Regions from separate parts of the Homo sapiens genome. Here region 2 is linked to region 1. A link means that fine-mapping ties the variant in region 1 to the expression of a gene that starts in the linked region. Tissue or cell type: whole blood. Region 1 holds a variant in brackets; the other region holds the start of a gene. All regions are shown on one strand. Distances are between the middles of the regions.

The links. PIP is the estimated chance that this variant, and not a neighbour inherited with it, causes the effect.
Region 2: it holds the start of NECAP1, and the variant in region 1 is fine-mapped to the expression of NECAP1 in whole blood (INTERVAL, PIP above 0.99).

What each region holds. Positions count from the first base shown.
Region 1 is chr12:8,058,563-8,066,721 of GRCh38, reverse strand. C3AR1 (complement C3a receptor 1) reads left to right here and starts at 363. Exons shown (of 2, transcript NM_004054.4): 1 at 363-444; 2 at 6,527-8,159. The coding sequence starts at 6,537. The coding sequence ends at 7,985. The variant G/T (reference allele first, on the strand shown) is at 4,462.
Region 2 is chr12:8,078,467-8,086,650 of GRCh38, reverse strand. It overlaps NECAP1 (NECAP endocytosis associated 1), which reads right to left and starts at 4,377. Exons shown (of 8, transcript NM_015509.4): 1 at 4,268-4,377. The coding sequence starts at 4,362. RefSeq lists enhancers at 4,135-4,194, 4,265-4,484, 3,916-5,115.

The DNA of each region.
Region 1 (8,159 bases):
ATTAATTAAATGAGTTTATTCAGGTCATTCCTCCCCAACCACTCCCCACTCCAACCCTCACATCTCATAGAGTCTTTTTTTTTTCATTTCTAAACAAAACCTATAAAGTTGAACCCTATGTACAGAGGTACCCTCTCTCTAACCATTCTCTGTGTGCTGCAGAAAATGTCTCAGGATTATAAACTCCTACTTCTGTTTTCCTGCTTTGCCTTTCTAAGCCATTTAGAAATGACTCACTTTGAAACTCTTCCTGTGAGGTCAGATAGTGGTCTAGAGCATAAGACTTAACTTATTGCCGGAAACAGAGAGAGAACAGAAGAAGAGAAAGCTCAGCAAATTTTCTTGCCATACTTCATGACTTCACTGTGGCTAAGTGTGGGGACCAGACAGGACTCGTGGAGACATCCAGGTGCTGAAGCCTTCAGCTACTGTCTCAGTTTTTTGGTAAGAAAACCTAGACCTACCTGATGACTTGTGCTTAGCCTGTTTTGCTCATTATAGGTAATGAGTTTGAGTGTCACTATCTTCTATTTCCCCTATTCCTTCTCTGACTTTGAATTCTTTTATCTTATCTCTATGTCTAACTTCCTTTTTCTAAATATTCCACATTGCATTTGTCTTTGCTTTTAATATTTTCATAGTGGAATTAATAGTGAATTTTTACATCATTTCTTTCCTTTCTTTGAATTGGCTATGTATTTCACCCTGAACTTTGATTCCAGCTGTCCCCATTAATTTGTTTTTCAAATAATTGATTGCACTTTTTTTCCCTTTCCATTTCCTCTTTCTTTTTTTTATTCTTTTGCCCATTCCTTATTGCTACTGACTCTGTTATCCTATTACTACAATTTGATTCTGGGGTCCACTTTTCTTTCTCTATCACAGTGGAATTTTAGTTTCAGGATATTAATTACCTTTAAATTACGGCTGGTCAACTTAGTAATAATTTTTTTTAATCCTCTACTAATCTTAAACACATAAAGGTATGGTATTTTTAGCCAAATTAACTTGAAGAAATGTAAAAAGTAATCTTGCTCTGCAGGACTTTTTTTTTTTTTTTTTTTTTTTGAGACAGAGTCTCACTCTGTTGCCCAGGCTGGAGTACAGTAGCATGATCTCAGCTCACTGCAACCTCCGCCTCCCAGGTTCAAGCGATTCTCCTGCCTCAGCCTCCTGAGTAGGTGGGATTGCAGGCACGTGCTACCACACCCAGTTAAATTTTTTTGTATTTTTAGTAGAGACAGGGTTCCACCATGTTGGCCAGGTTGGTCTCAAACTCCTGACCTCAGGTGATCTACCCGCCTCTGCCTCCCAAAGTGCTGGGATTACAGGCGTGAGCCACCACACCCAGCCTTGTTCTAAAGGACTTTTAATCCCTGACTCCTACATACTTTCATTTCAAAACAGATAATAACAATATTTAACATATAGCTCATGACAGATAACTCTATTTTTATTAAAATTTTGCTGTTTGCAGTCCCTGCTACTTCAGTTCATGCAGTTCTCGGCAGCTTCCCCTTTATTAGCAATACCATATATCTTTTTTTTTTTAATGTGATTTTTTTTTTTTTTTGGTAGTAAAAACAGCATTTGCCTAACAGTCCTCGGACCTGAAATCCAAGAACCTCCCTAGTAATGATTATATGCTTGTAATCTAATTTGCTGAGTTTCACTGTCAAACTTGAGAAATAAAAGCAGAGAAAACGTAGGCTGGGCACAGTGGCTCATGTCTGTAACCCCAGCACACTGTGAGGCCAACATGGGAGGATTGCTTGAGTCCAGGAGTTTGAGAGCAGCTTGGGCAACATAGCAAGACCCTATCTCTACAAACAAACAAACAAACAAACAACAACAACAACAACAAAATGAGGAGAGGAGAGATGATTACCAAGTTTTCTTTCAGCCCTAGCATCCCATGACTCTATTCTTCTCTCAATATTTTAGGGGGGTACCGTGATAGTATTTAAATATCTGAGTAGACAAGGCCATGGAAAGGGGAATGAGAATAATTTCTTCTTCTTTTTTTTTTTTTGAGATGGAGTTTTGCTTTTGTTGCCCAGGCTGGAGTGTAGTGGCGCAACCTCGGCTCACCACAACCTCTGCCTCCCAGGTTCAAGCGATTCTCCTGCCTCAGCCTCCTGAGTAGCTGGGATTACAGGCATGTGCCACCATGCCCACCTAATTTTGTATTTTTAGTAGAGACAGAGTTTCTCCATGTTGGATAGGCTGGTCTCAAACTGACCTCAGGTGATCTGCCTGCCTTGGCTTCCCAAAGTGCTGGGATAACAGGTGTGAGCCACTGTGCCCAGCCCATGTCTTCTTTTTTATTATTTTGTTGACTTGCTATTTTAACTTCTGCTAATCATATGAGGCCCTATGGCAATATTTGGCTGACTCAGCAGAACTACTTTCAAGTCACAAAAATATTTTGAGCCTCTATAAAAGTAAAATGTTATTTTATCCAGTAAAAATTAGGAATTTCACAAAAAGAAAGTTAAAAGGGACAGCATGGGAATTAAGGAAGAGGCCTGGGTAAGGATTACATGGATACAAATTAGAATTTTAGATGTAATTGCAAAAGAAAAAAAAAGTCAACCCCCAAAATGGGCATCCATCTATTCAAGTAATTTTTTTTTTCTTTTTTTTTCTTTTGAGACAGAGTCTCTTTGTCATGCAGGCTGGAGTGCAGTGGTGCAATCTCAGCTCACTGCAACCTCCACCTCTCCAGTTCAAGCGATTCTCGTGCCTCAGCCTCCCAAGTAGCTGGGATTACAAGTGTGAGCTACCACACCCAGCTAATTTTTGTATTTTTGGTAGAGATGGGATTTTGCCATGTTAGCCAGGCTGGTCTTGAACTCCTAGCCCCAAGCGATCTTCTCCCCTCGGCCCCCCAAAGTGCTGCGATTACAGGCATGAGCCACTGCGCCCAGCCTTTCCACATAATCTTTAACCTTGGTGTCTCATAAGGCATTATGTTAAATTATGTGAAATGAGCATTTATGAATAAGACTCCTTTTTACCATCATAAAGTTTAAATCCAGAATAATAGATTAGACAGCCATTATAATTATTGTACAAGATAAAATGTGTCATTGCATATAGAATATGAAAAAAAGGTTCAAACATGCGCACACACACAAATTAAGAAGCTGAAGACTTGGTGAAGGGCATAATTCCAGATAGAAGTAAACAGCATTAGCCATGGAACGGAAAATGGCATTAAGTTGGAATAGTGAATTGTTCAGGAAAGCTATAAAGCAGGGTACATTTACGAGCATGTTCACAGTTAGGGGAAGGTAATATCACAGAGGCCAAGAGAAGAGAGTGTTAAGAAGTCAGTGTATCTAATGACACATATTGTGGAAGGTGACTGAGAAACAAACGTTTGGATTTGGTTTTTAGAAGTAATTTTAGCAGAATTATGGAAGCAGAAGATACATTACAAAGAATTAAGAAGTTGGTGGCCGGCCGGGCCTGGTGGCTCACATCTGTAATCCCGGGACTTTGGGAGGCCGAGGCGGGCGGATCACCAGGTCAGGAAATCAAGATCATCCTGGCTAACATGGTGAAACCCCGTCTCTACTAAAAATACAAAAATTAGCCGGGCGTGGTGGTACACGCCTGTAATCCCAGCTCCTCGGGAGGCTGAGGCAGAAGAATTGCTTAAACCCGGGATGCGGAGGCTGTAGTGAGCCGAGATCGCACCATTGCACTCCAGCCTGGGAGACAGAGCGAGACTCCATCACAAAAAAAAAAAAAAAAAAAAAAAAAAGGGCCGGGCGCGGTGGCTCACGCCTGTAATCCCAACACTTTGGGAGGCCGAGGCGGGCGGATCGCCTGAGGTCGGGAGATCAACATCATCCTGGCCAACATGGAGAAACCCCGTTCTCTACTAAAAATACAAAAAAAAATTAGCCGGGCATGGTGGCGCATGCCTGTAATCCCAGCTACTGGGAGGCTGAGGCAGGAGAATCACTTGAACCCGGGAGGAGGAGGTTGCAGTGAGCCAAGATCGCGCCACTGCACTCCAGCGTGGGCAACAAGAGCGAAACTCCATCTCAAGAAAAAAGAAAAAAAGAAGAAGTTAGTGTTCAGAACAGTAGGCGTAGGCCCCAAAACAAAGCAGTATCCTTGAAAAAGAGAAATTATGCTAAATTAAGAGACTTAAGAAGAAAGTGCGATCTGAAGTAGATATTGTCGTGGACAAGCCAGCTATAAAAGATGTCTTAGGGACAGTTGAAAAATAATCATATAAAAGGGGGGGCATGGTGGTTCGTGCCTGTAATCTCAGCACTTCGGGAGGCCGAGGAAGAATCAGTAGAGCCCAGGAGTTGGAGACCAGCCTGAGCAACATAGCAAGACCCCATCTTTACAAACAGAAACAAAACAGATAAAGGTCGGGTATTCCTTATGGTACATATTGTATAATGTGGAGACTGCTAACTGAAAAAAGAAAAAAAT[G/T]TATAAAAAATATGTATTTACACCCATGTTCATTGATGCATAATTCACAATAGTCAAAAGGTGAAAGCAATCCAGATGTCCTCTGTGGAATGACTGGATAAACAAAATGAAGTATAGACCTACAATGGAATATTATTCAGCCTTAAAAAGAAAGAAAATTCTGACCCATGCCACAACGCGGAGGAAGCTTGAAGACATTATGCTAAGTGAAATACACCAGACACAAAAAGACAAATACTGTGTGATTCCACTTAGATCAGATATCTAAAGTAGTCGAATTCATAGAAATTGAAAGTACAATGGTGATTGCCAGGGGCTGAGAAAAGGAGAAAATGGGGAATTCTTTCCTGAGCACATTTTCAGTTTTGTAAGATGAAAAAGTTCTGAAAATTGGTTGTACAACGTGAATATGGTAAACACTACTGAACTGTGTACTTAAAAATGGTGAAGATGGTAAATGTTATGATACATGTGTTTGGCAATTAAAATTTTTTTGTTAGGGCCAGGCGCGGTGGCTCGCACCTGTAATCCCAGCACTTTGGGAGGGAGAGGAGGGAGGATCACTCGAGCCTAGCAGTTCAAGAGTAGCCTGGCCAACATGGCAAAACCTGTCTCTGCTAAAAATACAAAAATTAGTTGGTACGTTGGTGGGCAACTGCAGTCCCAGCTACTCAGGAGGCTGAGGCACGATAATTGCTTGAACCCGGGAGGCAGAGGCTGCAGTGAGCCGAGATTGTATCACTGCACTCCAGCCTGAATGACGGAGGGAGATTCTGTCTCAAAAATAATAATAATAATAATAATAAATAAATAAATGAAGCACTGTCCCACATATTAGAAGGCTTCTAGCCATCACAGCCCCTGCTGTCTAAAGATACGCATGTGTATACCTAAATGCACACACACACATAAAAAAAGGTCAAGAGGATATAAATTCAGGTGCTAAAATAATAATCACTGACTAGTGAGTATATTTTTATTTTCTTTTTTGTTTGTCTATATTTTCCAATTTTCTTCATGCATATTTTTTGCTTTTGTAATAATAAAGCTCTTTTCCCAAGTTACGGTCATAAAACACAAATAAATAAGAAAGAAATGATAGGTAGTGAGGAAGTCAATGCAGAGGGCCAACAACTCTTGGAAAATTTGAAAGCAAAAGGAGATGGAGTTGTATCTAAAAGACATCGCTGAGTCTAGAGTACCTCTTTCTGTGGCGGCGAGTCCTCTGAAAATCTGGTGGGGAGAGTGGATGAAGCTTCTGCCCTCAGAGAAATGAGAATATGTAAAGTTGAAGTTTTGCATATCATTTTAGGTGGTGATGGAACTTCCTAAAACCCTTTCGTGACCTCAGGTTGGAGACCTCCAGTCCAGATATTTTTGTGTGTTTACTTATTTAGCTTATTTGTTTATTTTTAAACACACTGGGTGAAGAAAGGAGCCAGTGGAAAAACCAAGATTGAAAGTACAAGAAAGAGGAGAAATTTACACTAATATGGACTTCCAGATGAGGCTGTGATTTTGATACACACATAAATCAATACAGTAGATTTTAAATTGTCTATCATAGGATGGGCATGGTGGCTCATGCCTATAATCCCAGCACTTTGGGAGGCCAAGGCAGGCAGATCACCCGAGGTCAGGAGTTCAAGACCAGCCTGGCCAACATGGCAAAACCCCGTCTCTACTAAAAATACAAAAATTAGCCAGGCGTGGTGGTGCACGCCTGTAATCCCAGCTACTCTGGAGGCTGAGGCAGGAGAATCGCTTGAACTCGGGAGGCGGAGCTTACAGTGAGCTGAAATCAATCCACTGCACTCCAGCCTGCGCGACAGAGGAAGACTCTGTCTGAAAAATAATTAATAAATTAATAAATAAATATAATTGTCTATCAGAGAATGCTTTTATGTGGTCCCGTGTGAGGTGAAGGAAGGCAAACTAAAACAGCGTGAGGACCTTCTGGTTTCATGATCCCACATCTTTATGTGGGAAGATTAGAATCCTAAGAATATGTATGCATTTTCAAAAAGATACTGTTTGTTTTAACATTTTTTTCATCTTTTTGCAGAAGTTTAGCAATGGCGTCTTTCTCTGCTGAGACCAATTCAACTGACCTACTCTCACAGCCATGGAATGAGCCCCCAGTAATTCTCTCCATGGTCATTCTCAGCCTTACTTTTTTACTGGGATTGCCAGGCAATGGGCTGGTGCTGTGGGTGGCTGGCCTGAAGATGCAGCGGACAGTGAACACAATTTGGTTCCTCCACCTCACCTTGGCGGACCTCCTCTGCTGCCTCTCCTTGCCCTTCTCGCTGGCTCACTTGGCTCTCCAGGGACAGTGGCCCTACGGCAGGTTCCTATGCAAGCTCATCCCCTCCATCATTGTCCTCAACATGTTTGCCAGTGTCTTCCTGCTTACTGCCATTAGCCTGGATCGCTGTCTTGTGGTATTCAAGCCAATCTGGTGTCAGAATCATCGCAATGTAGGGATGGCCTGCTCTATCTGTGGATGTATCTGGGTGGTGGCTTTTGTGATGTGCATTCCTGTGTTCGTGTACCGGGAAATCTTCACTACAGACAACCATAATAGATGTGGCTACAAATTTGGTCTCTCCAGCTCATTAGATTATCCAGACTTTTATGGAGATCCACTAGAAAACAGGTCTCTTGAAAACATTGTTCAGCCGCCTGGAGAAATGAATGATAGGTTAGATCCTTCCTCTTTCCAAACAAATGATCATCCTTGGACAGTCCCCACTGTCTTCCAACCTCAAACATTTCAAAGACCTTCTGCAGATTCACTCCCTAGGGGTTCTGCTAGGTTAACAAGTCAAAATCTGTATTCTAATGTATTTAAACCTGCTGATGTGGTCTCACCTAAAATCCCCAGTGGGTTTCCTATTGAAGATCACGAAACCAGCCCACTGGATAACTCTGATGCTTTTCTCTCTACTCATTTAAAGCTGTTCCCTAGCGCTTCTAGCAATTCCTTCTACGAGTCTGAGCTACCACAAGGTTTCCAGGATTATTACAATTTAGGCCAATTCACAGATGACGATCAAGTGCCAACACCCCTCGTGGCAATAACGATCACTAGGCTAGTGGTGGGTTTCCTGCTGCCCTCTGTTATCATGATAGCCTGTTACAGCTTCATTGTCTTCCGAATGCAAAGGGGCCGCTTCGCCAAGTCTCAGAGCAAAACCTTTCGAGTGGCCGTGGTGGTGGTGGCTGTCTTTCTTGTCTGCTGGACTCCATACCACATTTTTGGAGTCCTGTCATTGCTTACTGACCCAGAAACTCCCTTGGGGAAAACTCTGATGTCCTGGGATCATGTATGCATTGCTCTAGCATCTGCCAATAGTTGCTTTAATCCCTTCCTTTATGCCCTCTTGGGGAAAGATTTTAGGAAGAAAGCAAGGCAGTCCATTCAGGGAATTCTGGAGGCAGCCTTCAGTGAGGAGCTCACACGTTCCACCCACTGTCCCTCAAACAATGTCATTTCAGAAAGAAATAGTACAACTGTGTGAAAATGTGGAGCAGCCAACAAGCAGGGGCTCTTAGGCAATCACATAGTGAAAGTTTATAAGAGGATGAAGTGATATGGTGAGCAGCGGACTTCAAAAACTGTCAAAGAATCAATCCAGCGGTTCTCAAACGGTACACAGACTATTGACATCAGCATCACCTAGAAACTTGTTAGA
Region 2 (8,184 bases), 20 kb before region 1:
TTTCTAAGCATTTGTAAGTTTCCTTTTTGTTTGTTTTGAGACGCAGTCCTGCTCTGTCGCCTAGGCTGGAGAGCAGTGGCATGATCTCAGCTCATTGCAACCTCCGCCTCCCGGGTTCAAACAATTCTACTGCCTCAGCCTCCCAGGTAGCTGGGACTACAGGTGTGCGCCACCACGGCTGGCTAAGTTTTTTGTATTTTTGTAGAGACGGGGTTTCACCATGTTGGCCAGGCTGGTCTGGAACTCCTGACCTTAAGTGATCCGTGCGCCTCGGCCTCCCAAAGTCCTGGGATTACAGATATGAGCCACCGCACTCAGCCTGATAAGTTTCTTGTCAACCCAAATTTTCCTTCCCATAGTCTAGAAGTCTGGTCAGTGAAAGTCTGGGAACGAACAGCTTACACTAGGTGAATTAAAATCAATTATTCTCTCTAATCTTACCAGTCACTCAAAGGAAAAATTCCTCCTGCTTTCTAAAAAGCCCAGTTTGTCCTTTAATGTCAGCCTAGAGAATAAATCCTGCTTATAATATAAAGTGGGTTCTGGTAAATAAGAAAGATTATGCAAACAAAAAGAAAACCAGCATTTATCAAGCATTTATTATGTGCCAGGCATTATGCCCATTCTCGTGAAAATTAAGTGAAAGGGCCAGGCGCAGTGGCTCATGCCTGTAATCCCAGCACTTTGGGAGGTTGAGGTGGGTGGATTGCCTGAGGCCAGGAGTTCAAGACCAGCCTGGCCAACATGGTGAAACCCCATCTCTACTAAAAATACAAAAAATTAGCCAAGCATGGCAGTGCACATCTGTAATCTCAACTACTCAGGAGGCTGAGGCACGAGAATCAGTTGAATCTGGGAGGCACAGATTGCAGTGAGCCATGATCACACCATTGTACGCCAGCCTGGGTGACAGAGCGAGACTCTGTCTCAACAACAAAAAAAAAAAAAAAAAAAAAAAAAAAAAGAAGATTAAGTGAGAGGATCCTACAAGGTAAGTATTGTTATAGTCATTTTTACAAATGAAGAAACTAACATTCAAAAGTGGTGATTTGCCAAAGGTAACCCAGCAAATAAATATCGTTATTCAAACTTAATTCCGCTCTCTTCATGTGCTGTACTAAAAAAGTGATTGATGATAAGGTGCCTCTTGGAGGATAAAAAATGCCAGTAGACATGGAAAACACAGAAGGATAACAGGAAAAAGAGGAAAATTAAGAAACTGCTTTAATGGCTCAGTGCAGTTAACTGATGTAAGTATAAAGGTTGTGGAAAACTAAGAAGTGAAGATAGAGAAGATGGGTGAGAGGGGAGGTGTTTTAAAAAGCTTGAAGTAGGCCGGGTGCGGTGGCTCACGCCTGTAATCCCAGCACTTTGGGAGGCCAAGGCAGGCGGATCACGAGGTCAAGAGTTTGAGACCAGCCTGGCCAACACAGTGAAACCCCGTCTCTACTAAATATACAAAAATTAGCTGGGCATAGTGGCACGTGCCTGTAGTCCCAGCTACTTGGGAGGCTGAGGCAGGAAAATCACTTGAACCGGGGAGGCGGAGGTTGTGGCGAGCTGAGATTGCGCCAGCGCACTCCAGCCTGGGCAACACAGCCAGACTCCATCTCAAAAAAAAAAAAACTTCAAGAAAAAGAATATAATCCCACTTCAATATGTATCATATCCTTTAGGAGTCTTAACTCCTAAAGTTGGAAGTAATGAGCTATTTGACCTTATTTAACAGTTCAATCAATGCCACTTTATGTGATTAGGTTTCTCTGTGTAATCTACTGATTTCTTCTTTCAGTCAACATTTACAGGGTGCCCAAAGTGTACCAGATACTGTGCTAGACCCTGGGAATATAAAGTTAAAAAGATCTCAAGTTGTTCACAGTCTAGCCTGGAGAAAAAAGGAGACTAAACAATCCATTGTACAATCCACTGTAATCCATTACAATACAAAATGAAGAGCCCTGGAATAGAGATAAGAATAAAGTGCTATGCAGGAACAGAAAACCAAACACCACATGTTCTCACTCACAAGTGGGAGTTGAACAGTGAGAACGCATGGGCACAGGGAGGGGAACAACACACACTGGGGCCTCTCGGGGGAGGGGCGAGGATGACAGGTTGATAGGTGCAGCAAACCACCATGGCACATGCATACCTATGTAACAAACCTGCACATTCTGCACATGTATCCCAGAACTTAAAGTAAAAAAGAAAAAGAAAAAGGTGCTATGGAAGCACACAGGGTGCATATCTAAACCAGAATGGAAGGGTCACATAGGGCCTCCCAAAGAAGGTGATGTTTAAGTGACTCATATAGTACCTGTAACTACCATCTAAAAGCATGTTGATTTCTACTTAGGGTCAGTTTGGGGTCCAACTAAAAGCTTATTAAAAACAGAACTGCTACCTCTTTGCCAAAGGTGCAACCCACAGGGCCCAGCGCACAGGTCAGCAAGCATAAAAATATTGATTCATGATGAATAAAACGCCAGTAAGGGGCAAAATAACAGACATAAGGAGAGGGTAACTTTTCAGCCAAGGTAATGATAAATGCCAGGAGGAAAAATCACAATGATGATGTGGGTCAGAGAGAAGAATAAGAACAGTATCTTGGCCAGGTGCAGTGGCCCACACCTGTAATTTCAACACTTTGGGAGGCTGTGGCAGGAGAATCACTTAAGGCCAGGAGTTCGAGACCAGCCTGGGAAATATATCAAGATCCTGTCTACACAAAAAAATTTAAAAATTAGCCAGGCATTGTGAGGCAATGCCTGTAGCCCTAGCAACTTGGGAGGCTGAGGTAGGAGGATCCCTTGTGCCCAGGAGTACACAGCTGCCGTGAGCTGTGATTGCACCACTTGCACTCCAGCCTGGATGATAGAACGAGACCCTGCCTCTCTAACAAAAAAAAAAAAAAAAAAAAACGACGGCTGGGCGTGGTGTCACGCCTGTAATCCCAGTACTATGGGAGGCCAAGGTGGGCAGATCACAAGGTCAGGAGTTCAAGACCAGCCTGGCCAACTTGGTGAAACCCCATCTCTACTCAAAATACAAAAATTAGCCAGGTGTGGTGGTGCATGCGTGTAATCCCAACTATTCAGGAAGCTGAAGCAGGAGAATCGCTTGAACCCAGGAGGCGGAGGTTGCAGTGAGCTGAGATTGAGCCATTGCGCTCCGGCCTGGGCAACAAAGTGAGACTACATCTCAAAAAAAAAAAAAAAAAAAAAAAAAAGAACAAACAAATAGTATTTGTAACTGCTTTATTGCATTTCCTACATTCTTTCACATCCATTATATGATTTAATTTTACTCTCCCAAAAACCCTTGTTAAGCACATTATAAGAGCGCAGGTATCATCACTAACAGGTTTTTTTTTCTATTTTACAGATGAGAAAATTGAGGCTTGGAAAGGGCTCACACTCATATGGTTTAACATGAAGCCCAGTGAACTGTCTTTCAACTACATAATGTCCTATAGCATCCTCAGAACCTCACAGTCATTGGATTACAAGGTAGGTAGTTAGGCCCAACAGAGAAAAATGCTGCCTCAACTTTGGAGGGAAAAGGTGTAGGAGAGGTTAAGAAGGGAGGTAGGGAAGGAAGACAGAAAATACTATATAATCATCAAGAAAATACAATGAGAAGAAACAGAATGAACAACCGTTGTAAAGCTTATGATCATAACCTTTGCTCACTGGTAAAACTGCTGAAGGAAAAACCGAATGGTGGATGATGACAGTTGGTGACGAAATTGACAACAGTACAAAAAATAAATCAGATAATCCAGAGTGGCAAGCAACACGATTACCCATAAATGTGCATGGGGAACTGGAAAGGTGTGTGTGTGTGTGTGTGTGTGTGTGTGTGTGTGTGTGTGTGAGAGAGAGAGAGAGAGAAAGGATGAGGATGATAAGCTGAAGGACGCAGGGAAGAGCGAATGAAAGGGGACTGGCAATGGAGCAAGCACGACTGAAAGTGCATGATGGGGAGCAGATGGGTGCCCCAGGGGATTACGGGAGAGGCAGAGTGGAATAACGCAGAGTGGTAATTTAATAAAAAACAAAACAAAAAAAAAAACGGCAGAAATATGGTGATGACAGTCCAGAGTGGAGATGGAGCAGGTGGTCAGGGAGATGACAACCCAGGTAGGGAGGCTAGCAAGGTGACAATACAGAGGTAGTAGTGGCAGGGACGGACAGCGTGCTAGCTGAGAAGGAAGCTGTCATCTGCGACAGAGTACGCGTGTGCGGCAGCGCCTCGGGGTTAGTACCTGTAACCGCGGTTGGAGGCCCGGGGCGGAATCCGGTAGACGCTGACGTCTGGCTTCACACACAGCACAGACTCGTACTCCAACTCGGTCGCCATCTTGGGTCCGCTGTCGGCGCTGCCGGGGGCGAAACGTAAGACCGGAGGCGGAGCACGGGAGGCGGAGATGCAAAGCGCGACAACTTCTGTTGCGTCACTTCCGCGCGAGTTCAAGTTAGTTTCTGAGATTAACCTTTTCGGTGACGCGGGGAGCCATATTGAAACCTGGAAACGATGAGGCTGCACGGCTCACCGTCTTGGATAATGGCAAAGATGGCCTGCAAGTGCGTGACTCTCGTTATGGAAATCTCTGTCCTGGAGAGGTGCTTACGAAAAGCGCCATCTTACTCTAGGCAGGTGCCTGGAGTGTCCTACGAGGACGAGGACCATATTGAATCGTGACGGATTTTCTTACAGGAGTCACTTCCTAACTGTAGTCTCCTGGCAGAAAAGAGGCAACCTCCAGCCGGTAGTCCCAGACGAGGTACCTGCAGAGAATGATGTATGATCTGGTCATAGACACCGTGGATTTCAACTCTCCAGAGTCTAAACGCTGAAAACACCCAACTTGATTTAGTGCCTTACACTCTTTATCTCCGATTTTTCAGGACGACACCTGTTAAAATGTTTTGCCACACTTTCGGCGTGTATTCCGATTATCTTTTTGGAAAATTTGATCCTGTTAAATAGACTATACGTGGGATCAACCCAATTCCTGATAAAATCGGAAGCATAATGAACTATCTAATGGCCTATATTAGCTCCCAGTTCTATTATAATGATAAATGCTACCGAACTCTCACCATAAATATGCTTTTTCTGCGCCCCAAAGGTAAACTTAACCACAACACCCTGACAGTACAGATAGCAAGTGGCAAAACTGAGACAGAAACTCAAGCCTGCCTCATTACAACAGCAGCAGTCTTCACCGCTGCTGGAGCTGGCAAGGTCACCAAGTCTGCCCAGAAAGCTCAGAAGGCTAGATGAATATCATCCCTAATACCTGCCACCCCACTCTTAATCAGTGGTGGAAGAACGGTCTCAGAACTGTTTGTTTCAACTGGCCATTTAAGTTCAGTAGTAAAAGACTGGTTAATGAAAACAATGCATCGTAAAACCTTCAGAAGGAAAGGAGAATGTTTTGTGGACCACTGGTTTTCTTCTTCAGAAGGAAAGGAGAATGTTTTGTGGACCACTGGTTTTCTTTTTTGCGTGTGGCAGTTTTAAGTTATTAGTTTTTTAAATCAGTACTTTTTAATGGAAACATCCAAAAATTTGTCACAGAATTTTGAGACCCATTAAAAAAGTTTAATGAGAAAAAAAAAAAAAGCAAACCTGCCTCTAATTTGTCTGCTCCACCTTGGAAAGTGATATCTTAAATTTCAAAAAGAATTACCACATTTATCCCTGGCGAGGACGTGAGGAACAGTCTAATCTCATACACTGTTGGCAGGAATGTAAATTGGCACGGCATTTTTAAAAGGGAAATTAACAGAATTTATCAAAATATTAATTGGACGTAATCTTCAATTTAGCAGTTTCACTAATAAATATTGTAGAGAAATCCTTATATGCACAAAAAAGTATGTACAATAATACTACAGCATTGTTTGTAATAGTGAAAAAAATGGAAACAAAATGACCATCTATCAATGGGAAATGGTTAATGGTATATCTATTACTATGAGATGTTTTGAACTAAAGGGTTAGCCATTGAAAGAGATCCAAGATTTTTTAAAGCCAACTGCAAAAAACATACAGCATTATCAACTTTTGTCGAAACACCCCAAAATTATATATGCATGCATGTAAATGCATTGAGAAGGCTTTCAAAGGATATAAGGCTAAGTGGGGGAAAGAAACTTATTTTCTCCTCCATATATTTCTCTGTTGTTTAAGATTTATATAGCTATTATTGTCACTGAATACATGTTAAAAGAAAAATAAAGACAGAAAAGTGGTTTATTACTTGTTGTTCCTTATTTCTGACCCTATGATCTCATCTGAAGCCTAGGTCATATGACTACACCACATTGTACCTCTTTTTTTTTCTCTGTTCTGTGTTATCACTGGCAATCATTTTTGGAGGATTCTGGCTTCTGGTTCACCTTCTTACTAGTTTATACTCTTCCTCTTCTCCCAAATCTTTTAGAGATTTCAAAGCCCATATAGTTAACTCTTCCTAGCCATACAATCTCTTGACATAAATTCTAACTATCTTTACCTCTCTTTTCTACCTCACCTGTTCTTCTTCATGTTCTGCACATTGTTAGCCTTCTCTTTATTCCTCCCATCTCCTTGTTTCAACAGTTCTCTTGCCAGCATCCTTAAGTTTCCTTTCCTCTTTGTCTTTCCATCACAGCCAACCCAAAAGACTCCAGTCTTATATATTCCAACCATCTCCCTCCATCATTCTCCAAAAGCAAATCACACAATTATAAAGATTGGTGTCCCTAAAAGTTTATGGGTTTGAGTCTCAGCTTTGCCCTTAACACCCAGATTTGCCATTGCTAGTTTTTATTTTCATTCCCTTTAATGGTTGTTCCAAATTTTGCTGCCCTTTCAGGCCTTCAACTCTAAGTCTTCTCTTTTTCTTTCTTGACAGGTAAAACATCTTACTACTTCCCTAAGAAAATAAAGTTTGTGTGAACTCTCTCAACTTAATGACACCCTATTCATACTCCTATCTGCATCTTCATCTATTCTTTCTCCTATCCACTTGTGTGTGCCCTGGATTCTCCTCAGGGACCAATCTCCTCAGGGACCTGGTTAATCAGTTATCTCCTTTCTTTCCTGTATCTTAAAACTCATTTTCCATTCACCCCTTTCCCTCACCATGTAAGTATATTCAAGTCCTTTCACCTAAAAAAAAAAAAAAAAAAAAACCCTTACTTAACCATGTTTTTTCTTTATATAAATTTAAATTTCCCTTCTCTTGCTTCATCTCAACAGAAACAGAAAAAAATACAGTCTTCCTCACTCTCACCCACGATGTCTTCTCTAGCTTAACTGATCACATTGCCATAATTTTCCATACATGCCATTTTTATTCATGCTGAACATATTTGTCCAGACTGAAATGCACTTCCCGTTCATTCCTTGGTAAGATGCCTTTAGATCTAATCTAAATATCAATTTATCTCAGAAGTTTTCCTCAACTTCTCTAAATAGAACTGGTAACTGCCTCCTCTATGCTCCCACAACATTTGTACAGCTGTTTTAGTTCTTAGCACATTGCATTCAACTGCTTGTTGGCATCTCTGTTTTCCAAGGGAAAGAAACAGGTTTGTGTTTTCCCAGTATCTAGCACAGTTTTCAGACTATAGTAAGAACTCTGTATGTTTATTTGCTAAATGAATGATCATTTCAGCCTGCCTTAACAGGGATGATTTGTTCTTTCCCAATCAAAATAATTAAAAATGTCTTGGGCCGGCACAGTGGCTCACGCCTGTAACCTCAGCACCTTGGGAGGCTGAGGCAGGCAGATCACTTGAGGTCAGGAGTTCAAGACCAGCCTGGCTAACATGTTGAAACCCTGTCTCTACTGAAAATACAAAAACTAGCTGGTCATAGTGGTGCATGCCTGTAATGCCAGCTACTTGGGAGGCTAAGGCAGGAGAATTGCTTGAACCCAGGAGACGGAGGTTGCAGTGAGTCAAGATCATGCCACTGCACTCCAGCCTGGGCTACTGAATGAGACTCCGTATCAAAAAAAAATAAACTAAAATAAAAAAATTAAAAATGTCTTGTCTCGAACTTATCTTTGCCCACCACCGGGGGGTAGTAGCTACACAGCTCACAGGTTCTGGGCTGAGTAGACTGTGCTAAGTCAAGCTAGTGTTCTTGTATGTGGCTTTGTAAGTATATGATTTAACCAAGTTT